Regions from separate parts of the Homo sapiens genome. Here regions 1, 3, 4, 5 and 6 are each reported to be linked to region 2. Evidence: microRNA targets listed by miRTarBase, many of them from high-throughput screens and not tested one by one. Region 2 holds a microRNA gene; each other region holds the end of a gene's coding sequence.

Region 1 (4,089 bases), not on the chromosome of region 2:
GGAGGGACACATGAACTCTCCCTAATCCTCTGGAGTCCTCTGAAAGGACAAGGTCTGTCTTCCTTAGCTGGTCTCTGAATTGCAGCCCATCTCAGGATTTCAGGACTGCAGAATTATCGAAGGGTTCCCAGGATATGTGCCTGTTTCCCCTTGTTTGTAGTCCCAAAGAGAGTATCCCAGGTATTTTGTGTCAGAATTGTTTGAAACACTCACTTGACTTAACATTGACCCCTGTTCCTGGGTTGCTCTCCACTGATTTGACATCTTCTGTCTCTTCTGTCCCAGGAACCTATCCGCTTACGGTACAAGCTGACATTCAACCAAGGTGGACAGCCTTTCAGCGAAGTAGGAGAAGTGAAAGACTTCCCAGACCTGGCTGTCTTGGGCGCAGCCTAACTTTTCACAAGATGGACCCTTCATTTCAAGCTTAGGCTGGCGTTACTTTTGCTGTCTAGTCAGGACTAATCACGGTGTTTCAGTGCGGAGTGCCAAGAGTCCTATCCTGACGTCAGGCTCTGGGTGTCAACCTCTGACTTATTCTGCAGATGCTCTGTGTGTGTGTGTGTGTGTGTGTGTGTGTGTGTGTGTGTGTGTGTGTTCGGGGAGAGGGTGGTAGCACAGGGCTTGGGATATCGGCAGTGTGGGAAATGCGAAGCATTTCTCATCATCATCATCTCTGCTACAGTCATGTTTCTGCATGTCAGCGAGCGACACTGTCCCTGCCTCAGGTTGGAGGTTTTATCAGCCAAAGTGTTTTTTTCATGTATCGTTCGTTCCATTCATCCACTCTGTGCCTTGTCAGCCTTTGAAAGGCTTGGTTGCTCCCAGGCTGCTGTTCTCAGGGACCTTAAAAGGGACCTGGTTAGTCTTGGGGCAGAGAGTATCTACTTGGGCACTCTCTTCCAAGAAAGACCTTGTCTCCATTTTCATTAGACAATGCTTCTTGTGTGTGTTCTGGAAGATCTTCTAAATGGAATGCTTGTTGCACTGTTCCCAGGCGAGTGGCTGCCATGAGACCTGAGGACCACACTTGGGGGACCAATCATGTCCTTCACCACTGTGCCTTAGAATCGCCCCTGGACAGAGTTCCTGGGCAGAGGGGAAAGCAGCTCCCAGGCCTTACTCAGGCCTCAGGTCCATGGGTTGGGCAGCCAGTCTGGGCCCTTCTCAGGATCCTCATCTCCATCCTCATCCTCTTCCTTCACAGCATTTACTTGGAGCTCTTTGTGACACACCATGTCAGTCATGATGAATCGGCCAACAGCCAGCCCTTGCCAGCTGACGTCACAGTCTAAGATGGGAAACTGTGGTACAGATAGACATGAAGAGAGCTTAGCAGTGATTGAGGTGGTGACTAAATATACAGTCATTGAATAAATACCATGTAGCAAGTGTACTTTGTGGAGTGTTGAGTAAGTGGAAAATGGAAAGCCAGTTGCATTTAGAGATGATAGGCCTAAAGGGAACTGTCTTCTGTCGAGAAGTAAAGGAAACTTCATGAAGGATGTAGAAGCTTAGCTGCCTCAGAGAAGAGAGAACCTGAAGATCTGAGGCAAGCTGGACAGGAGAGGTGGATATTTGTTGATGGAAGAATTCAAGTTTATAATCAATTCCCACTTAGCACCTACTGTGTGCTAGGAACTTGAATGTGTATGTTTGACAAGTCCTGCTTGGCCTGATGGGTGGGAGAAGGAACCTGAGCCTGGCTGAGATGGCTAGGCGGAGGGCTTTGAAGTCCAAGCAGCTGAACTGGCTGGGTGGGTTTCTACCTTTGAAACTGCAAGACTTGTTTGGAGCTCTTAATTACAATATCTGATATTTTTACAGTCTGATCTTTTGACTTCTACATATAGTGGAAATCTGCCAATACTAATTGGTGGAGATGGGAACTGTAAAAGATCAAGTATGCTAATTTTAAGCAAATGTAAAAACTCATAAAACAGGTAAACAGTGGGGTGATTTCATTTGCCATAATTCACATAAGACGAATTTTAATCTAAAAGTACTTTCTTGCTTGTATTCTGTGTGGCTTTTTTTTGTTTTTTGAGGCCATATCTCACTCTGTCACTCAGGCTGGAGTGCGGTGGTATAATCTCAGCTCACTGCAATCTCTGCCTACCAGGTTCAAGCGATTCTCGTGCCTCAGCCTCTCGAGTAGCTGGGACTACAGGCGTGAGCCAGCACGCCCAGCTAATTTTTGTATTTTTAGTAGAGACAGGATTTCACCATGTTGGCCAGGCTGGTCTCGAACTCCTGACCTCAGGTGATCCGCCTGCCTTGGCCTCCCAGAGTGCTGGGATTACAGGCGTGAGCCACCGCACCCGGCCTCTGTGTAGCTTTTATAGGCTCTGTTACTGTTGCGTAGTCTTGAAGAGGTACCCATCATAATGACAGCATCTCCCTCTGAAGGGTTTTGGTCAAAATGGGTGAATGAGACTTATACATAAAGACAGGCTTTCTCCCCTATAGTTAGGAGGTGAACTCACACATGTGTACCTGAACATTCTTGCTTTTGAGGAGACAGACTCCCAGTGGTACTACTATGCTTAGGTGTTGGACAGGATAGGGGTAGGAGGAGAGGAGGCAGGCTGCTGTCCTGAAAGTGGCTGTGGTTTATGGCATCACTCCCTTCTAATCAGCAAGTCCAGTGGCCACTTAGAGCCCAGCTCCTACCTCTTCATTCACTTAACAAGTAGTTATTGGCTGTGCACAGTGGCTCACGCCTATAATCCCAGCATTTTGGGAGGCTGAGTGGGATGACCGCTTGAGCCCAGGATTTCAAGTCCAGCCTGGGCTACATAGTGAGACCGTGTCTCTGTTTTTTTAAAAGCTAGTTGTTGACCAGCTACCCTGAGCCAGGCACCACCCTGAAGGAGCTTCTTTTCCTCTGGGGAGAAGCAAATTCATGATGTGTGTGCTGGAGATCTGGCACTCATGGCCAGTGCTTTCCAGTATCTTGAACTCTTCGGGGGTCCTGTTGACCCATTTCGTGACCTACCTCCGTGACTGCTCTTTTTCCTCTGTCTCTTAAGTGTGATGGTTTTCCAGAGTCCAATCCTCAGGACTTTCCCGTCCACACACAGGCCTGGTAGTCAGGTGGCTCTAAACCATTAGGTGGGTTGTAGACCTCTCTCAAGCTGCCACCTCCTTGCTGTCGCCAGATCGTATTTCAGTCTGTCAGGGGTTATCTGTATCTGGAGGTTCCACTGTTGCTTCAGTCTCAGTTACTTAGAATGGAACCCAGAGTCCTGCCCCTTTCCACCTACATGCTCTTACTTGAAAGCACCTGAGACTTATTGGGTCCCTGATTCCTGCTTCGTCTGTATCCGCAGAGTAGTTGCATGTCATTTGGCCTGTTTTCTAAATAATCCCACATCATGTCCTCCCTGCACTTACATTGCCACTGCTCTGATTTGGGCTTTTTTTTTTTTGGGACAATGCCTCTGTCCCAATTCTGAGTAACAGCTCTGGTTCTTGCCACTACCAGAGTTCTCTAGCAAATCTGAGCATCTGACAGGGTGAAAAATTCTGAATGGCTTCCTGATGCCTGACTTTATGGGATCAAATTCAAGTTGCACGCTGGCACTCAGTGCCCTTCTGGTATCATCTGCCAAGACCAGGGCCTGCTTCACCACAGCCACAATAAAGTCCTTTCAAGCCCTGATAATGCCATGTTTTGTCCTAACCTTTTGCTGCAGTTAATTACTCTTCCTATTATCTTCCATGAACTTAAGACTGGGCAAAAATGTTTCCTTATCTGTGAGCCACTCTGAACACAAACAGGTCATGAAGATAGTGTTGAAAACAATAAATGACAACCAAAAGAAAAGTGAATATTACCTAGTACAAATAGTGTAAATTGAGACAGAAAATGTTAAAGCTAGAAAGCAAGGGCAATATTCTAGAATACAAATAGTGCTTGCCTACTACAATATTAATCCCAAATCCTTTAAATATACCCATTATAGAAGATGCTTACCCAGCGTCAAGAGTATAAAAGTGGGTTTGTTTGTTTTCTTGAGACAGGGCTTTGCTCTGTTGCCCAGGCTGGAGTGCAGTGGCGTGATTGTAGCTCAATGCAGCCTTGAA
Region 2 (4,108 bases):
ACGTAGTGACAAAAAATAAAAAATAATATTTACAAATTTAAAAAATTTAAACTCTATTTTAGCAACTTTGAAATACACAATACATTAGTATTAACTGTGGTTACCATGCTGTGCAATAGATCACTGAAATATATTTCTCCAGTCTCGCTGAAACTTTGCACCCTTTGATCAACATCTTCTCTTTTCCCAACCCTCTCCCACTTCCCTGGACTCTAGTAGCCACCTTTATACTGTTTCTATGAGCTCGACTTTTTAAGATTCCATATAAAAGTGGGATCATGTGGTGTTTGTCTTTCTGTGTCTGGTTTATTTCACTTAGAATAATGTCCTCCAGTTCCATCCATGTTGTCTTGAATGGCAGAATTTCCTCCCTTTTCAAGGCTGTATAGTATTCCATCGTGTGTATATGCAACATTTGCTTTATCCATTATGTCCCTTGATGGACACTTAGGTTGACTCCATATCTTGGCTATTGTGACCAGTGCTGCAATGAACTTGAGAGTGTAGATAACCCTTCGACATCCTGATTTCAATTCCTTTGGAAATATAACCAGAGGTATATGAGTCTGCTAGATCCATATGTACGATTTTATTTTTACTTATTATATATATATATACACACACACATATATATTTTCTTTTTCTTTTTTGAGATGAAGTCTTGCTCCTGTCGCCCAGGCCGAAGTGCAGTGGCGTGATCAAGGCTCACTGCAACCTCTGCCTCCTGGGTTCAAGCGATTCTCCTCCCTCAGCCTCCTGAGTAGCTGGGATTACGGGCGTGTGTCACAACGCCTGGCTAATTTTGTATTTTTAGTGGAGATGGGGTTTCACCATGTTGGTCAGGCTGGTCTCGAACTCCTGACCTCAGGTGATTCACCCACCTTGGCCTCCCAAAGTGCTGGGATTACACGCGTGAGCCACTATGCCCGGCCCTTATTTTATATTTTAAAGTCTCACTATATTGGAATCCACTATATATGGAGTCTCACTGTATGGCCCAGGTTGATCTCCAACTCTTGGTCTCACGGGGTCCTCCCACCTCAGCTTTCCAAGGAGCTGGGATTACAAGTGCAGGCTACCATGCCTGGCTGTCACACATGTCGTTTTAAATGTTTAGGCCAGGGTGGCTCACACTCGTAATCTCAGCCCTTTGGGAGGCCAAGGCGGGCAGATTGCAATGTCAAGGCCAGGAGTTTGAGATCAGCGTAGGCAATAGAGCAAGACCCCGCCCCCCCGCTTCATCTCTACAAAACTATTTTTGTTTGTTTGTTTGTCTGAGACGGAGTCTCACTGTCACCCAGGCTGGAGTGCAGTGGCGTGATCTCGGCTCACTGCAAGCTCCGCCTCCTGGGTTCACGCCATTCTCCTGCCTCAGCCTCACGAGTAGCTGGGTCTACAGGCGCCCGCCACCATGCCCGGCTAATTTTTTGTATTTTTAGTAGAGACAGGGTTTCACCATGTTGACCAGGATAGTCTCGATCTCTTGACCTCGTGATCCGCCCGCCTCGGCCTCCCAAAGTGCTGGGATTACAGGCGTGAGCCACGGCGCCCGGCCGAATTTCTCTTGTTTTAAGTCACTGAATTGGGGATAATTTGTTATAGTAGCCGTTAAGAAACTAATGCAATCTGTTTGAGCTTCTGTCCCCTCCACGCTAACGGCAGAGTTTCTGAGGCTTTTAGAGAACATCTTTTCCAACCCTTCCACATAGGGAAGGAAACTGAGGCTCAGAGAGAGGATGGAGACTGAAGGAGACCTCAGGCTTCCCGCTCTTCATCCAGGCTCCGTGGGTCACTGTGGCAATTTACAGATATTTTTCCCGTTTTAAAAAAAATAGGCTGGGCACGGTGGCTCATGTCTGTAATCTCAGCACTTTGGGAGGATGAGGTGGGCAGATCAACTGAGGTCAGGAGTTCAAGACCAACCTGGCCACCATGGTGAAACCCCGTCTCTACTAAAAATACAAAAAATATTAGCCGGGCATGGTGGTACATGTCTGTACTCCCGGCTACTTGGGAGGCTGAGACTTGAGAGAATCGCTTGAATCCGGGAGGCAGAGGTTGCAGTGAGCCAAGATTGCGCCACTGCTCTCCACCCTGGGTGACAGAGTGAGACTCCATCTAAAAAAAAAAGTACAGAATGTGGACTGAACATGGAGGCTCACACCTGTAATCCCAACACTTTGGGAGTCCAAGGCAGGAGGATCCCTTGAGGCCAGCAGTTTGAGATCAGCAGCCTGGGCAACATAGCGAGACCCCATCTCTACACAAAAATAGCCAGCTCTGGCGGTGCACACCTATAGTCCCAGCTACTTGTGAGGCTGAGGTAGGAGGTTTGCTTGAGCCTAGGAGTTTGAGGCTGCAGTGAGCTGTGATCACCACACTGCACTCCAACCTGCGTAACAGAATAAAGGTCTCAAAACAAAAACAAAAAGGCCAGAATGTTTATTGAGTTTTCTTTTAAGGCTGAGACAGAGCACAAGGTTTGGTTGGAGTCCTAGTTTGTTTGTTTACCTGCTATGTGGCCTTGGATAAGAGTCTACCTTCCCTGTGCCTCAGTTTCTCCCTCTGTAAAATGGGCATGGTGAGATAAGTCATCTCAGAGGGTTGTAGTGTGGAGGGCTGCTGTGAGAATCAATGTTACTGTGCGGCATAGTCCTGGAAGTGTTTGAAATGCTGTAAAATGGGCCTGGCACAGTGGCTCATGCCTGTAATCCCAGCACTTTGGGAGGCCAAGGTGGATGGATCATGAAGTCAGGAGTCTGAGACCAGCCTGGCCAACATGGGGAAACCCCGTCTCTACTAAAAATACAAAAATTTGGCCAGGCACCATGGCTCATGCCTGTAATTGCAGCACTTTGGGAGGCTGAAGCAGGTGGATCACCTGAGGTCAGGAGTTTGAGACCAGCCCGACCAACGTGGAAAAACCCCATCTCTACTAAAAAAAAAAATACAAAAAATTAGCCGGGCGTGGTGGTGCATGCCTGTAATCCCAGCTACTCAGGAGGCTGAGACAGCAGAATCGCTTGAACCCAGGAGGCAGAGGTTGCAGTGAGCCAAGATCGCACTATTGCACTCCAGCCTGGGCAACAAGAGCGAAACTCTGTCTCAAAAAAAACAATAAAAATAAAAATAAAAAAATTTTTAAAAAAGGCCGGGTGTGGCAATGTTCGCCTGTAGTCCCAGCTGCTCGGGAGGCTGAGGCAGGAGAATTGCTTGAACCCGGGAGGCGAAGGTTGCAGTGAGCTGAGGTCGTACCACTGCACTCCAGCCTGGGTGACAGAGCAAGACTCAGTCTCGGAAAACAAAAGCAAAAACAAAAAAATGCTGTAAGACAAGAAAAATAAATGAGATGCAACGATTGGAAGGCAAGAGAGAAAACTGCCAGATAGATTCTCTTTTCTTTTTTTTGAGATAGGGCTTTACTCAGTTGCCCAGGCTGGAGTGCATTGTCATGATCATGGCCCTCTGCAGCCTTGACATTTTTGGGCTCAAGTGATCCTCCCACCTTAGCCTCCCGAGTACGTGGGACTACAGGCACATGCCACCAAGCCATGCGATTTTTTTTTTTTTTGTATTTTTTGGAGAGACACGGTGTTTCACCATGTTGCCCAGGCTGGTCTCAAACTCCTGGGCTCAAGCGATCTGCCAGCCTTAGCTTCCCAAAGTGCTGGGATTACAGGTGTGAGCCAGGGCACATGGACAGGTCTCTTCTTCTTCTTCCTCTTTTTTTTTTTTTTTTTTTTTGTGTGTGTGTGTGTGTGAGACATTCTTGCTGTTGGCCAGGCTGGAGTGCAGTGGCACAATCTCGGCTCACTGCAACCTCTGCCTCTCGGGTTCAAGTGATTCTCCTGCCTCAGCCTCCTCCCGAGTAGCTGGGACTACAGGCGCATGCCACCATGCCTGACTAATTTTTGTGTGCGTGTATTTTTAGTAGAGACGGGGTTTCACCATGTTAGCCAGGATGGTCTCGAACTCCTGACCTCACGTGATCCACCCACCTTGGCCTCCCAAAGTGCTGGGATTACAGGTGTGAGCCACTGTGCCCAGCCAGGTCTCTCCTTAAATGCTCCTTTGACAGAGAAACCTCCGCTACCCTCCCATCCACTCG
Region 3 (4,108 bases), not on the chromosome of region 2:
ATGTCTGAGGGCATGTAAAAAAGGTATAGAAGATACTCTTCCCATTAATTGACTAGTGTTTAAGATAGCAATTGAATTGAAATGATAATCTATTAAGATATGAAATTAATTATCTTTATTATAAGAAAGTATAATCTAGCTAATAAATGTCCTCTTCAATTACATTTAGATAATATTGCTAGATATGTAACTGTAATTTCTTTTAATGTCCTCATAGAAAAAGAATCAATTTAAAACAAATTAAACATGTTATTCTTTTAGTGTTCAAATACTAAGCATTCACTTTAAAAGACTATACCAAAATTGTTTTAAGCTTTCTTGTAATGCACAAAATTTTAACATATTTATTAATGTCTTCTGAATATAAAAGTAATGCATGTTTATAAAAGACTAAGAAGAGTATAAAAATGCAAATAAAAACTATCTGTAACTTAATCAACCACATACAACCACATTTCTACTATTTAAAAATAAAGCAAGCATGGATTTGTAACAGAAGAGGAACTAATAATAAAAATGAACGGCATGCTTATCCATTTTTATTAACTCATATATGCAAAGTAACGTCCTTAAAAATAAATTGTTCTACACGAATACATGGACAAATTAAAGGCTTTTAAATCAATAACATCTTTTGGATTTAAATATTAAAAGTTACTTTGAGAAGATTTTAGATAAAACATTTCATTGTGTTATTTTATCACACATTAATTTATTCCTCTTCCTCTTATAGGTTTCATCCAAAGAATATCAAAAGGAGGCCTAATTAAAACCAAAAGAAAAAGAAAGAAGCAGAGAGTGAAAATAGCATATGAAGAAATTTTTGTTAAAAATATGTGAATTTGTTATAGCAATGTAACATTAATTCTACTAAATATTTTATATGAAATGTTTCACTATGATTTTCTATTTTTCTTCTAAAATGCTTTTAATTAATATGTTCATTAAATTTTCTATGCTTATTGTACTTGTTATCAACACGTTTGTATCAGAGTTGCTTTTCTAATCTTGTTAAATTGCTTATTCTAGGTCTGTAATTTATTAACTGGCTACTGGGAAATTACTTATTTTCTGGATCTATCTGTATTTTCATTTAACTACAAATTATCATACTACCGGCTACATCAAATCAGTCCTTTGATTCCATTTGGTGACCATCTGTTTGAGAATATGATCATGTAAATGATTATCTCCTTTATAGCCTGTAACCAGATTAAGGAATACAGCTCTTAAAAAATCAAGAACTTCCTGAGTTTCACATATAAAATGGTGACAAACACCTGCTTCTGATAAAGTTTATCCAATTTTGTATTTATAGTATTCTATTGTAATAATAGAATTCTATTATGTGCTTCCCTCCTTAGACATAGTTTTTCTCCTTTTGTACTAACCAGTACTTCCATCTATATTGAGCTAAACTGTCTTTGAACAGTCAACTCTGCATCATGTGCCTGCCTGATTTGGATTGGTTTCACTTTTTTTTTTGTTTGACCATAGCCCATTCTATCAGTCAAGATGACTGAATAATTGTGTGTTAAATACAACTCATGATAAGGAGAACCTTTATGGAAACAAGAAGTTTTATGGCAATCGAGAGGGAATTATTTATATGTACTTCTTAATACTATGCTTCCCAATATTTTTTCTTACTAAAAATAACAAAAATATTTAAACCTTCTGAAATCTATTCAGTTATCATTAGGATTTGCACACAATGCAACTAATAATTCATGCTTTAAAAAGTAGGTTATTTCTGTTGAAGAGAAAATTATCAGCAGGGAAGAGTCTACTAGAAAATTCATGTGCTAGTCATTCTTGGGGATTTAATATTTTGCTGGAGTTAATTCACTATATCCAGACCTGTATCTTTCATTTATTGCTGAGCCATGTGCAGTCTGGCATCTCAACAACCTCAACAACCTCAACAACCTCCAAGACATGTCAGTTTCTGTAGTGTTCACCTCAAATCTGACACTGGAATTGGAACTGATTTAGAAACAACCATTTCATTCATTTGGTATGACTAGCTTCATGACTAGCTTCATGAATAGCTTCATGAATAGCTTCATGACTTCTCGCTAACAATGATAGTATAATTCTGCCTGTTCTTCAGGATTGAAATTTTGAACTCAATTTAGATTTCCTGTTTTCCCTCATATACCACATCTAAACAGTCTCCAAATCTTTATGCTTTTTTTTTTTTTTTTCGAAAAAGTTCACCCAATCCCTAGGCTTTTTACTTTTTTCTTTTTCTTTTCTTTTTTCTTGTTTTTTTTTTTTTTTCATTTTGTTTTGTTTTGTTATGTTTTTTTAGACAGGGTCCCACTCTGTCACCCAGGCTGGAGTGCAGTGGTGCAATCACAGGACACTGAAACCTCCCACCTAGCTGGGACTAGAGGTGCAGGCCACCACACCAGCTAATTTATGTAATTTTTGTAGAGACGAGTTTCACCACGTTACCTAGGCTTGTCTTGAACACCTGGGCTCAAGCAATCTTCCAGCCCCAGCCTCCCAAAGTGCTGGGATTACAGGTATAAACCACAATGCCCCCGTTTTTACTCTTTACTGCATCCTTCCCATCAGTATTAATTCCTCAGAAATTTAGTACATTCCTCCACCATTTCAAAATGCTCCCAGAACTCACACTAGTTGGTACTTAACTACAACCTTCAACCTCACCATTTAATTTTGATGTATGTTTTTGGATTTACCAACAGTACTTTCTTTCATGACTACTTTGATTTAGTTAAGAATGCTCACTGTACACTGAATGTTAATTACTCAGCTAATTCACACTGATTTCCTGTTTAAAAATATGATCCCCTCCAGGCCATTCATGTGAAGTCAGGGTACAGCTGATGCCAGCTACAGAATCACTATGTTTCAATATGGAATATGAAAAGTCCTAACACATAATTGCAAATCATTTTCTACTATGGTATACAAATTTTATCATTACAAAATAGTATCAGCTTTTTTCACTTAAGGAAAATAATACATCTTCATTCAAATATTCAGTGCATAAATAATTGCCTTAAATTGAGTCTTTGCTGTGGAATTTGAGAGTTTTGGAAATCAAAGGCCCTTGTGAAACATTTCCTGTTGCCATTTATTTATAGATAGCAATAGCTTCAAATGAGTGGGAAAGTCTACTTAGGTGAAGTGGTAAATAGTCACTAAGATTGTATAAATAGCGCATTGATGAGTTGCCTAATTGTTTTCTCCAACAATAACCACTGGTCCATTGGTTCACTACTTACTCAAGAAAGACATATACTGAGATGGCTTGAAATGTTTAATGCATGTGAACGTTATTTTTACCGTGTTTTGGAAAAAGATCTTGATGTTATTGTCTTCCTTTATTTTCCACAATTAAGTGCATCTAACTGTGAATTGTATATGGAATTACATTATTCAGCATATACATATATTTACCTGCTTTGTTCATTCTCTGTATTCAAAATTAACAGATCATGCTGAAAACCACTCAAACGATTATATTTTTTACATTATAAGAAGTAAAATATATTATTCTGAATAATGAAACCTGGCTGTTGTACTCGTAAAGATTTTAGTACATAAAGAATTCAATGCTCATTAGTTATCATAACGGTACAAAATCTTAAGACCAAAAATGATTGTTCCCACACTCTGGTTTTATTTCCTTAAATTGGAATTGTTAATAGCTGCCTTTTAATTGCAAGTACACACCCATATATTATAATTTATTTGTCAAACAAATTAGTACACTATGTCCTAACAATCTATACATTTAAAATTTACTCTGCTACATATATATTTTCATCACTCATTTCATATACAATTGTATGAATATAGACATGTATATTTAAATATATGTTATATAACTATACATTACATAACTTCCTATCCTGGCTATTGTATTTGGCCTAGCCCATCTCTATATCAGAAGAAAAAAAATCATGACACTAAACTAGCTAACTAGGCTGTTGGTTGATTCTGTCATCAGCGGCTCCTGCTCTTACCTGGTTTTTAGCAAATTAGCAATTTTATTTAGTGTTTCCAACTTTTGACTTTAAGTGCTTTCTCAGGGACTTTGGCTGGGATGTACTTTAATCACTTTCCCCAC
Region 4 (4,105 bases), not on the chromosome of region 2:
ATAAAATTATCGAGTGTGTTCAGGAGCGGCTATGCCAGTGAATTTCCAGCCTGAAATGAAATCATGACTTAGGTGTATTTATGAGTATCTGTTTTAAAAACCACTGTGATAGCTAGCTATCACCTCAAATTTTGAAGTCGTTTCGTTGAGTGTGAAAAAAAGGAGAAGACATTTCAAAGTGCATTTAGCTATTTAAAAACCCTTTATTCACTGAGTGTGCTGCTGATTATTACATGTCTGTGGAAGCTTCTGGAGCCAGTGGTGGAGAGGCAGATGTGAATAATCAGTCGAGATGTATATTGATATGACATTATGAACCAACAGAGGAAATCCATTAACGACATCATTTGCTCTTCCTCTGGGGCTCAATTTATAATTATTTATGTTCCAAACAAAACAAAACAAACCCTTTTTGCTCTTTTAGTACTCGGGAGAGCCTGGCTTCCAACACATCAAGCATTGTTGAAAGTAACCGTCGTCAGAACCCCGCTTTGAGCCCGGCCCATGGTGGAGCTGGTCCAGCCTTCAACTTCCGAGCGAGCGCGGAGCCCCCGACAAATGAAGCTGAGAAGCTACAGAAACCTTCCAACTGCTTGCAAGCTTCTGTTACTAGCGTGTGATTGTCCTTCTGCCTCAGATCTTCTGTCTCATTCGATACAGCAAAGTTTACGACACTGGGACTGATGTTTACATCTTTGGAAAGACAAGCATCTCAACCACAGTTTTTGTGTTTACTTAAACTGTGCTGCTAAGTAGGGCTAGGGCAAAAAAACAAAAAATCTTTATTTCAGAGTATTGCTTTTCACATTTATGGCTCTGTAGCAACTGAGTAACAGTAGGGGTGATATGTATACTTTTGCTTCACTAATTGTATCTGAGCACACATAGGAAAGTCTAGACACTGTAAGTGTAATACGCATTTTCAATGTCATGCAGTTGCCAATTCCATTTTAAAATGCCACAGATGCGTGTTGCTCCCAGTCTGTGGTTAAACGGTGCCACAGAACTGATCCTTGACACTTCCAAAAAAAAAAAAACAAAACAAAACAAAAAAAATTTAAAAAAAAAAAACAAAAAACAAAACTAAGCTACCACGAAATGTCAAATGCAAGGGTCCACCTTGAGGGAAATAGATGCCAAACTAACTAGAAGGGACCCCGGCCCTTTGTGTGTGAATTGTTTATGCACCAGTCATTTTTCACTGTGAGTTTTCGTGACACTATTTTGCAGGAGCCCATGGAAGTGTGTGAGAAGGGGTCGCAATGGAGATCACTGGGAGTGAATGTTTTCAGGGTTTTGTTTTGAAGTGTCACAGATGCTTGTCTGATTTTTTTAACCTTCCGTGATCACAAACAGGAATATAGGCCTTTGAATCTGAAGTGGACAAAGGAAAGCAATTTCCAGTCTGGCTGGGGCACAGCATTAGGTGATTGAAAAGGTGATGTGGACTTGTAAAAGGTGTTACTCAAATATTGAAGGAAGAGAATTTCCTCCTTGTGATACTTAGGATGACCCTATCTTACTCTAATAGATACAATAATTAGTTTGTTTAAAAGCAAAATGTTCTTTGTGATACAAATGAAGAGTAGGGCCTGAGGATGTTATTCTTTCTAATGGAAGGACATAAATCTATTTTATGTAGTTTTAAATAGAATGCCTAAATTAGGCTGTGGGAGATAATTTTTAGTGGTTGTAGGAAAGAGCAAATTTAGGGAGTGTTGAACTTCAGGCCTTTTATTCCTGGGAAGATATGTATAGAGAAAACTTTTAAAATAATTTTTGATTAGAAATATACATGTGCCCATGTAATAAACAACAGAATGTGCTCATTCTGCTAGTGCGGTATAATCCGAATTTGTACTCCCCTAAAATTTATCAGAATAACAATTATGCATACATGAACTATGCCAGAGTAATGTTTACAGATACTTTGTAACCAATTTCAGGAGGCGTTTTTAGCTGGATGTGTAGTTAATTAGACCAACTTATTTCCAAATGGTTTGTTAACATTTTGCTTTGGTTTACAATGTCATGTTGAACACAAAGAAGACCCAGCAGCAAAGGGATGACCAATAATTTCATCTTATAGCAAGGAGACATTCCAACGTTCCCATGTTTTATTTTCTGAGAACAGTGGGACAGATCTGTAGTAATGGAATATTATTTGCAAAAGGGTTACATATGACACAAGTAAGTGTTCTGACATAAAGTTTTATTTAGTTCAGTGGCATGTGCTGTTGGGAGCCATACACCATAAAATATATATATCCCAAAATAAATCTAGAATATTTTCACCTCCAATTTCAGTAATTGGCATATGATTTGTGAGACGCATCTGTTTTTGTATGAGGTTTAATCACTAGCAATCTGTTTAAAGAATCCAGTCCTATACACAGTTGGACTCATTCTTGAAACCTTTAAATGCTCCCTCATAGTTTTTCAGTTATTTGGAAGTTGCATTGGGTCAAACTGAACTCCTTGAGTTTGGTGTAAATTCCTTTTTTCTGCTTATTATAGTGAAACTTCAGCATGTTTCTTAGTAAACTCCCATACCATTGAAATGCTTAAGCCAGTTGGCTTTCAGTCTCATGCCTTATTTCCTCCAAGGCATGCCTCAACGCATTGTTTGTCTCATTGCTTAAATATGTCCAGAAGGAATGATCATGTATCTAATAGACTACATAGTTGGTTCCCTTGGGGAGTTATATATCATACAGTTACTAAATATTTGTCTAAATTCATTTTTTCCAAAAACCTGCTCTCAAATTTTTCTTCTACTCTCAGTTCATAAATAATATAACCATTGAAACAACACATCAGCCTCTAGCTGATCCTCTGAAAGTAGCCATTGAAATAATCGAATACTGTGTGAACAGGAAAGGAAAGCGTTACCTTTAAGAGAAGCTTTAAAATAGGAATTTATTGATATTTCACAAGATATAGGTTTACAGAAGACATTATTCAAATAAATATGTACACTATTTGCCTGATGCTATGGGGTACATAATTTTTTAAAAACTCCCTTAGACCAGCAGCCATTAGTGTAGAAATGATGGACTTTAAAGGTGATACCATGTAAGCAGATGTTGCATATAAAAATATTCCTGCCTGAATCTGATCGAGATTCTTGAATGGGGGAGGAGTGGCAGCCGGCAGCACATTGCAAATGTCATTCGAGGTCACGGTGAGGCTCTCGGTCCCGGAACAGTGGGGGCCTCGCCAGGCGTTGCCAGTATCCCTTTCCTCCTGTAAAATCATAGCTTTGTGTTACACGACTGCTTATCCAGTCTTAGGGTTTAGCAGCTGAAAGGTTTACAAAACTGAATCTGGTTGAATCTCTGTGAAAGGGTCAACACATCTGTCGGCATTTTGCACACTTATGTATTATTATGATACAACATATTACTTTATGGTAATTTTTATTTTTACATATAACTACCTCCATAAATTTGATGAAATGGCAGCCGTGTGTTAAAGTGTATCGTTCAGAAGAGCAAAGTTGAACACTTCCTTCAACATTAGGGCATGGCGTGCTGTGTGTGTCAGTGATTGCCTCTGTGGACTCATGACTTTCCATCGCCATGGCTTTCTCTTACGCCGCTGTTTGGCTTTCAGATGTAATCCTGTCTTCTCCTCTCTTCCCCACGAAAGCGCACTCGATTTTGTTAGGAATGAACGGAAGTTTAAAAATTCTTGTGCCCACCCCCGCCCTCCACCCATTCCTGTTAAAAGTTCTCTGGCGAAGAGCCAATGGGTGAACGTAATTGAAAGAGCTATTTACTCTTTTGGAAATCTGATTTGAAGTCTAAGTTTTCAGTAACAGAAGACACACAAGCAATGTGGACTGCCAAGCTTGAAGCACTTCGGGCTCTGCCTTCACTCGCATGCTACCATGTCGAGCCCAAACTCCACTTTAATTAAAAGAGCTGTGCTGTGAATTCCACAACTTCTGTTAAATAATTTGTATTCCATTATATATATTTTGCACATCTCAGGGGACCATAATGAACATATGAAAGGGGGGGGGGTGCCATCAAATAGAGAAAACAAATAGAAGAGGTGAATGGAGACTAGCTGGATAAAAATAACAAATTACTTCTTCTCT
Region 5 (4,000 bases), not on the chromosome of region 2:
AAAGAGTTGAAGGAGATGATTCTCAATGGTCTCTCCTTCTCGTGGTGACCAGTACTGCCTGTGTTGTTATCTTACCATTGATTTGTTTCTTGTTGTACAAAGTTTGCAAACTGCAATGTAAATCAGAACCTTTTTGGGAAGATGATTTGGCAAAGGAGACTTATATCCAATTTGAGACCCTGTTTCCCAGGTCTCAAAGTGTAGGTGAGCTCTGGACACGAAGCCACAGGGATGACTCAGAGAAATTGCTGCTTTGTTCTAGGTCAAGTGTGGAATCTCAGGTGACTTTTAAAAGTGAAGGTTCCAGACCAGAGTATTATTGCTAAGGTTCTGCAGCTCAGGTGCATGTGAGCTACAAAACTAGCATCTAAGGGTATAATTGACCCTAGGTTTGGATGACTTTTGGACAGACTTTCACATTGTACATGAAAATCACAAATGGAATGCTTTTAAGTATGTTTAAAAAATACCATGAGACCTCTGAACTGAAAAGACAAATAATGTTGATTTTTTTTCTTGTGTGGAAAAGGTCTACAGAAATAATTTTTAGAGTGGTGCTTAATAAATTATTAATACTTTTTAGGGTAATGTTTTAGTTCTTAAAAATAAGTTCATGTGAAAGTAGCAAGTGAACTCTGTATTTAAAAATATAGTTTTTTGAGTCATGAGGAAACATTAGCAAAACCAGCTAAGCCTTGATGTTTATTCATGTTCGAAGTGCATTATAGCATTTGCTGTGGATGTTTTCTGACATTGCCTAATGGAGAGCGTGGGATCATAAAGGATTTTGTGTTCACTAAGGTTAAATCTAACTCACGGGAGAGAGAGGGCTCTGTCTCTTGGTACCATTATGCATTGTGATACTATAGAGTTGTGTTCATATTTCTTGTAAGAAAAATTTTTGCTTTTCTTTAGAAATATAGGTATTAGCAAAAGTAAGTATACAAAGAGGATTATGACAAATAGACCATTTCTTTAAAAATGGTAACTGTTGCATTTAAACACATCGACTGACAGATTATATGGATATTTAAAAATAACTTTAAATCAATCTTTTAATATTTTGCTGTTTGCTCTTATGTTCTCCCTTCTTTCTTCCTTCCTTGTCTTCCCTCCCTTTCCTTCCTTCATTCTTTCTTTCTTCTGCTCTGTCAGAAGATATACAAGTAGCCAAAGCATCACGAGCCAAGCTGTTTGTCTTTTGCCATATTGTCTTTTGATTCTCTTGATAAAGAGAAAGCTTTTGAAATTACTTACTGCCCTTTGAAAGTCTGTTTTACAACCCCAAAGGATATTTTAGGACTTTAAAAGGGAAGCTTCAGTGGATTCATTTGGTTAGATTCTTTTCCTAGGTTAAAAACATCGGGGAACTTAAATACATAGGAAAGGAGTTCACAAATAAAATTTAGTTTTTTTAGAAAGAGAATATTTTAATAACTGTAGTATACTACAAGAAACATCTCATGGCTTTAAGATTAACGATAGCGATAAGGCCCACTCAAGCATCTCACAGTGGTGATATTACATGTCACTTAGCAGGATGCAACCTGGCCTAGGGATTTCCAGAAGACAAGGCCACCTCAGCACAGATGCAACTTTCATAAATTTTAGAACAAAGCCTAACCTTACTAGATTAAACTTGCTCTATGAAAGAAACACTTGGTAATTGACCCAGACTGAATACATGTATAAGAAATGGGAAAGATCTCCCAAACTCTGAGAACGGTCCTCAAATAGAAGCTCTCCTAGTCAGTTGGTCATCTGACCTCTGACTATATCCGGCCTATGACACCAGCCAGCTCCTGCTTTCTGTCTTGTAAGAGCACTGCTGGAATAAACTACTTGAGCATTAGATGGTGTCTAAGACTCATCTTTGATGACAGGGATAAATCACCCTTGTGAAGCTGGCTAGCTGGGACCACCCAAAACCTCAGAACACAACTAGCAGTGAGGATGAAATTTGAGTAAGCCAATGAGTGATGACACCCATTTCTACAGGAGGATCAAGGGAGAGTGGCCAGGGCCTGGCTCTGATCGAGAGATTGGGTGAGGTCTGAGGAACACTCTACAGTGGGTCTGGCAGTTTTTGTTCTGTTTTCACATGTGTTGCTGCCTTCTATCTTTACTTTGTGCCTCTGTTTTGGAGGTCACCACCAGGTAAAATTTGCCAAAATTACTTTTAAGACCACTCTGGTCCCACAGGAAGGTGGGCTTCTAGGAGGAGGGTGGTAGGAATGCTGTAGGCTGGGGGACACCCTGGGCTTGAAGAGCCAACCACCAGCTGGTATGTTTCTAGCCTCAGCTGTGGGAGAGGAGCTCCTCGTCCCCAAAGGTCCTGGCATCATGACCCCATAGACCAAGAAGGCTCAAGTACATCTTCTCCACAGAAAGCTTATCTGTTGTCTGCCAACTGGGGAAAGAGACTTCTCCAACATACCCCGGTCTAATGCCGTTAGCAAAGTCACCAAATCACCAACGGGCATGTTGCTGCCATCCCTGTTCCTCTGCATGCTCCCAGTGAGACAGTGCGGCTTCTCCAGGGCTTTACCACCCCCTACAATGCCTGCTGGGTGCTGCCAGCAGCAGCCCATGAGCAGCACATCCAAATCATAGGGGCTCACCTCAGAGTTGCCACTCTGCACCTGGCTGACCTGGAGGCCTGTGAGCTGTGATCATCCTGAGTGCACCAGATTACCCCCAGCAGCACCACAGGCATTGCCAGTCACCACCTGGACACAGTTAAGAAAGCAGCTGCCACCTCCGCAAACAGCGAGGGTGAGGAAGAACTAATCTCGGATCCCAAAGCAAGCACTCTGTCTAGCAGGACTCGGTTAGTAACTGTCAGAGCTGGTTGTTACAAAGTGAGGTTCTTCCTTGCCTTGGCTCCCTTTGGCACACTCACTTCCTTTTCCACTTCTCTGCCATGCTGTGACATGGCAGAGGCCTCACTGGAAGCTGACCAGATATAGTGGGCAGATCTTTGACTCCTAGGCCTCCAGAATTGTAAGCCAAAGTAAACCTCTCTTCTTTATAAATTACTCAGTGTCCTGTTCTGGTGACTCTCCCTTATGCCTGTCTATTCTGTTATGACCACAGAAAACAGACTAAGAAAATTCTTATGGATAGAAGATGCATTCTTACCTTAAATCTTTAGAAACCTATGAGGGTTTCTTACGCTTCATAGAAGCATATGAGGGTTTTTTGTTTTTCTGTTTTTTACCTTATTAAGTCAGGAACTTGCACCTTTTCACGTAAAGGAAGCACTTTACAGCTTCTCTTTGGCATATCCAAGTTGCCTGCGTCACTATTCTTGTGCTTTGGGACCACTGTCAAGTAAAATAAGGGTTACTGGAATGCAAGCACCGTGATACCACGACAGTCCATCTGATAACCACGGCGGCTTCTAAGTGACTGATGGGCAGGGAGTGCATGGTGTGGATCCTCCAGACAAAGTGATGACTTATGTCCTGGGTGGGACGGAGCAGGATGGCAAAATATTTCATCAGACAACTCACAGCCACACCTCCTGGAAACACTCAAGAGCCCTACTTGCATTTGGCAGCCATCTGAAACGGACAAAACCTGAAACTCTAGCTTGACTGGACCACCTCCAAGATCAACTTAAAATTTATGAATTGTTTATTTGTAGATTTTCCATTAAAAATTTTCGGACTGTGGTTGAAGTTGGGTATCTGAAAACGTGGAAAACAAAACCTCAAATAAGGGGGTACTACTGTAGGCCCTTTGACACAAGCAGAAATTCGAAGCCTGCTCAAACACCTGATGCAGAGGCCCAACAGGAAAAGTGCCACCTGGCTGTGGTGTGCGTACTGAACAGGAAGGGTCTACAATTCACAGGCCAAGAATACAACAGCTGGCAGCTATCTCCAAAGATGGGAAGATTGATTTCATTACTTAAAGATCCTGTCAAGCTTCTCCAGGAAGCACAGTCAGGTGGGACTCTGGGCCCAGAGCAGGCAGACGTGACAGAAGCTATTCC
Region 6 (4,098 bases), not on the chromosome of region 2:
TATTTTCAACAAATAGTATTTAAGCATTGGCCAGGATGGGAATAAGACCAAGAGAACCGTCTAGGCAGTGACTCAATGTGTTGAAGCCAGGAGTGGCAGCTGATACCCTGCATTTTCAAAGCCCTACCATCTATGACAATCTTTCCCTTCCTTAACACCCCAATTCACCATCAAAACTCATTTCCCAAGGACTGTATTTCCTTAAAAGGTTGTTGGCACAGAATCTGGGGGTAATGCAAATCCTTTGGGTAGGTAGTTAAGATTGTGGCTTGGAAAAGCTTCCCTAAATAGGGCTTAGAGGACTGTCCACCTCATCTTTCATATTTTGCTGCTAACAATCTAATACTTCAGATGCAGAACCTTCAGTGTTTTAGGGCCTTTGAGCTGCTGACACACAATAGTGCATCAGAGCTGCCTCTCAGTGCTCCGGTCACCTACACAGAAGATGACTGAAGGAATGAAATGACGAGTTAATTCCCAGGAAGAAAATGAAACTGGGAACAAATGCATTGCCCAAATTGAGCTGACCCTCCTCCACTAAGGTTTGAAAAGACCCTATTAAAGATACCTTCCATGTGGGCACGAGGTTGGCCACCAATCAAGTAGCCTCTTTTGCCTAATATCCTTGGCAAATATAAATTTGTTAGCAACAGGTCTGAATGAAAGAGACTGGGTGGGTCTTGATTCAGAAGAGCTGAATTCACTCTGTGAGTCTGAAGATACAAGTCAGCCTCCAGGAATCTTTGCTTAGCTGGATAGTGTGAAAATAGATGATGATGGGAGTGAAGATAGAAAGAGGATAAGGACTGATTTGAGGGAAGCTGGTAAGGTTCTTCTGTGGCTCCTGAAATCACATCATTAGTAATGTCATCTTTGGGTCTTCAGAGCTTTTTGTATTACCTATGGGTATAATTAAGCAACTGGGAGGGTTGATACTGTTACATTTCTTAGCTTGTACCTTCTAAGGTAGTTAACACCACACAGGCTGATAACTCAGGGCAAGAGAGAGGCCTGGAGAGTTGACAAGAGTGTGAAGATACTGGAGAGGGGTTCAAAATAGGATCAATTCTTCTAATACTATTCTTATTTCTTGCTAATAATTTGTCCTTGTAATTATAGTGAAGTAATGGTCTGGATATAAATGAGATATGGTTTTGTGAGGAAGAAACATAGAGGATTATTCTTAACAACTGTGGCAGCCTTGCCAATATGGAACCCAATTTCAGAGTTTGTGAAATGGTACAAGTCTCATAAACTATCTCAGCACTGCATCCGTATTTGTGGGCACCTGTGCCAAAAGCACCTTGATATGTTTCTTAGTGTAATTGGCCAGAGATGGCCAATAGATGTCTTCTCAAGTGTTTTTGATCACCAGGTCAGTGCTATTGGGAGTGATATAATATGGTGGTTCCTAAAGTTATTTTTGGTCTCTTTTTTTTTTTTTTTTTAAGTGCTATGATAGATTAACAACACCTGCCTTGGATGCAGGAATTAGGTGGGGCTGCACACGTGCATGGTATTTTCTATCCCTATGCTAGGTTTTGTTTCTGTTGGCTGTCTTCACTAGACTTGAGATGACTTGATTTACAGTAATCCCTATGTGATGTAACTAGTCTAGACCTTCCCTTCTCCGCAATTCCCAGCTCCAGGTTTCAGAAAGTATGCCACACTCAACCCTTCTCTCCAGTTCATCCTGTATTAATTTCTTCCCATATTAATTCAAAGGGAGTGGACAGGTCCCTGGCTGAAAAGAAATAAAGAGATCCCCAAAGTGGTGGGGGCTTCCACGTGCAGTTGACTAATTTTCACTTAACTTTTGGAGGCTAGACATGGGAGAGAGAAAAGCACTGCCCAGTCACAGGTATGGAAGGGAGTACTGCTAGCTGGAAAAACCATATAGAAAACATGATGACCATGTTGAGTTGTTGGTGCTGAGGCTGTGAACTCTTTGGCTTCCTTCTGATGGCCCTCTTGAGAACAATCTGTACTGTTCTTATAAAAGATTCTTTCTCCCAGAATTATATCTCCTCAGAGCAACAGCAAGGTTCTCAGGATCAAAGCCTACTCTAGCCTGAAGGGCTAGGAAGATTAGGATAAGGATAAGGATAATAATCCAAAAGTCTCGACAATTCCAGTAGTCTCTGGATGGCTCCAACATCATAGAAATTTAACACTGTTCCACTTGTTTACAAAATCTAACACTGGCTTAGACATTCTGGACTTTCAGTGAGGGTTCCAGCATCTGATGTCCCTCAACTCCTTTCCAGGGTGAGAGGCCCACTTACAGGAAACTTAACTTCTCACCATGTGGACCCATGAGGGTTTTTCTCTTGCAGAAGGGCTAAAAAGTGAGGAGCTATGGAAAAATGTGGGTCACTTTTAAGGCAGACTGTTTGGTTGTGTGGAATTTTTCCTAACCTAGTTCTACCATCTTGGATTATTCAATGTATAGGATAGAGCAGCAGGAAAAGTAGCAGCAAATGTGGTCCCAAGGCAAGATCTGGGGGAACAGGTAAGTCCTAGAGGGATATTATGACCTCAAGCCTCAAGCAAGGGGCTGATATAATACCTTGACATTGCAATCCTAAGCCATTCTCAGATTGGCCTCGAACCCTGGAGTTGGGGTAAAATCCCCCATGGCAGCAGAAGAATTGGGGCGCTTTGCATACCTGATAATCTTTACCTCTTCCTAGGTCCTAGTTCCCTAGAAGGTAGGGGATCACAGACTGTTTCACTTCCAATCCCAAAGGACTGCACAATTGTGCATGTCCTACATATTCTGAGCCTCAGAGTGTGAACTAGCTTGACATCTCCACACTTGGTCTTAGCAGTTTCTGCAAATTTCTTTCTCCCAAGGATAGTGTTGGCTAGGAGCTTGGGAAAGAAAAGATTGAGTTTATTCCGGTCTCTCTCTGCTCATCTCCAGAACTGCCCTCACACAGATGTTTGTATGGGTGTGTATGCATGCATGTGTACTAAACACAGATGGGCACACTCTAGATATAGAACACGTTTCTTGCTGTGGTTGTGTGACAAATGGCTAGAATTTTAGGAGGCTCTGGGACTGCACACTGTATATGCAATCCATCTCAGACTTTGGGATGGGAATCCATTTCATCATCCAGCATGGCGAAACTTGGTTCATTCGCCCCAATGTGAGTCCTTCCTGGGTAAAATTAAAGGCAGACCGGTTGGGTGCTAAGGATCCCTGGTGTGGAGAGGCCATTCCGTTGAGCAGCTGACTGTGAAATCAATACCAAAGGGATGTGGGTCCTGGCGTTGGGAATTCTTTGACAACTTCTTGTCCTTCCTTAGCCATGGCTGTATCCCCGGAGGTCTTTCCGGCTGTGTTCTTGGGCCTGGGGGTCCCGACAAGCACAGTCACCTTGTAGATCACAGGACATAGGGAATGGGGTGACCTGCAGAAAGAAGAAGTGAATCAGGTGATTTGGTCTGAAGCAGTAATGATCAGAAAGGCAGTGCAGCGCAGGGATACAATCACTGGATTTGAGGAGCAGAAGGTTCAAGTTCAAGTTATGGCTCTGCTTCTTGCTATCCTGGTGATAACTTTTATCGAGCACACCATGATCATAATCACAGCAGTTTTCATTTGCAGAGGCACTTGCTATGGGTCAGGCATTTGCTATGGGGTAAGGCAATGTACTCAGTGATTTCCAAACAAGAAAACACTTTTGACAACTCTATAAGACAGATGCTGCAACAATCACCCTTTTATTGATGGGGAAACTGAAGCTCAGAAAGGAATAAGAATTTGCCAAAAGTAATAATAAGTGTCAAGTCTGGTATTTAAAGTAAAACAAGCTACTTACTTATCTCAGAGCCTCAGGTCCCTATGTAGAGCTGATATAATAAGACCCACTTTGTATTTTAAACTATAGGAGCTGAGTAAAATCATGGGTGGAAAATTGTCGTGCACTGTAGCAAAGTTGATTAATAGAACTGTGTAATGGAATATCTGATGTATAAGTGATCAAGTGAAAGAAAGGATGTGGAAGTGTCTTTTGAGAAAACATAAGTCTCTGCACATACTGGTCACTTTGACTTTAGTAGGCAATGATGAAAACAAAAAGCATGTCT

What was found. Region 2 holds the annotated microRNA hsa-miR-6088 (AGAGAUGAAGCGGGGGGGCG, at 1,227-1,246, opposite strand). A microRNA usually pairs through its seed, bases 2 to 8, with sites in the 3' UTR of a target mRNA and lowers its output. Matches are read on the target gene's strand: a 7mer-m8 pairs with bases 2 to 8, a 7mer-A1 pairs with bases 2 to 7 and ends in A, and an 8mer does both.
Region 1: miRTarBase lists GGA2 as a target of hsa-miR-6088. Seed matches in the 3' UTR shown: 7mer-m8 at 671-677 and 7mer-m8 at 1,177-1,183.
Region 3: the mRNA of TFPI is a reported target of hsa-miR-6088. Seed matches in the 3' UTR shown: 7mer-A1 at 1,900-1,906.
Region 4: miRTarBase lists STOX2 as a target of hsa-miR-6088. Seed matches in the 3' UTR shown: 7mer-A1 at 709-715 and 7mer-A1 at 3,988-3,994.
Region 5: miRTarBase lists LRIT3 as a target of hsa-miR-6088. Seed matches in the 3' UTR shown: 7mer-A1 at 1,458-1,464 and 7mer-A1 at 1,504-1,510.
Region 6: miRTarBase lists PAPPA as a target of hsa-miR-6088. Seed matches in the 3' UTR shown: 8mer at 1,571-1,578.

What each region holds. Positions count from the first base shown.
Region 1 is chr16:23,463,897-23,467,985 of GRCh38, reverse strand. GGA2 (golgi associated, gamma adaptin ear containing, ARF binding protein 2) reads left to right here. Exons shown (of 17, transcript NM_015044.4): 17 at 286-4,089. The coding sequence ends at 396. Among named protein-coding and RNA genes, the nearest start is that of COG7, 13 kb to the right of the region's middle.
Region 2 is chr19:45,433,792-45,437,899 of GRCh38, reverse strand. MIR6088 (microRNA 6088) reads right to left here and starts at 1,246; the gene lies at 1,196-1,246. It also overlaps a transcript of ERCC1 not described here.
Region 3 is chr2:187,463,668-187,467,775 of GRCh38, reverse strand. TFPI (tissue factor pathway inhibitor) reads left to right here. Exons shown (of 8, transcript NM_006287.6): 7 at 1-23; 8 at 734-3,546. The coding sequence ends at 840. The region is part of intron 2 of CALCRL-AS1 (CALCRL and TFPI antisense RNA 1); the gene reads right to left. Among named protein-coding and RNA genes, the nearest start is that of CALCRL, 17 kb to the right of the region's middle. RefSeq lists a silencer at 2,688-2,888.
Region 4 is chr4:184,016,665-184,020,769 of GRCh38, forward strand. STOX2 (storkhead box 2) reads left to right here. Exons shown (of 4, transcript NM_020225.3): 4 at 425-4,105. The coding sequence ends at 620. Among named protein-coding and RNA genes, the nearest start is that of STOX2, 110 kb to the left of the region's middle. RefSeq lists an enhancer at 524-1,023.
Region 5 is chr4:109,870,464-109,874,463 of GRCh38, forward strand. It overlaps LRIT3 (leucine rich repeat, Ig-like and transmembrane domains 3), which reads left to right. Exons shown (of 4, transcript NM_198506.5): 4 at 1-1,852. The coding sequence ends at 326. Among named protein-coding and RNA genes, the nearest start is that of LRIT3, 24 kb to the left of the region's middle.
Region 6 is chr9:116,395,830-116,399,927 of GRCh38, reverse strand. PAPPA (pappalysin 1) reads right to left here. Exons shown (of 22, transcript NM_002581.5): 22 at 1-3,419. The coding sequence ends at 3,312. PAPPA-AS1 (PAPPA antisense RNA 1) reads left to right here. Exons shown (of 1, transcript NR_103711.1): 1 at 1-1,771. Among named protein-coding and RNA genes, the nearest start is that of PAPPA-AS1, 2.7 kb to the left of the region's middle. RefSeq lists an enhancer at 3,993-4,098.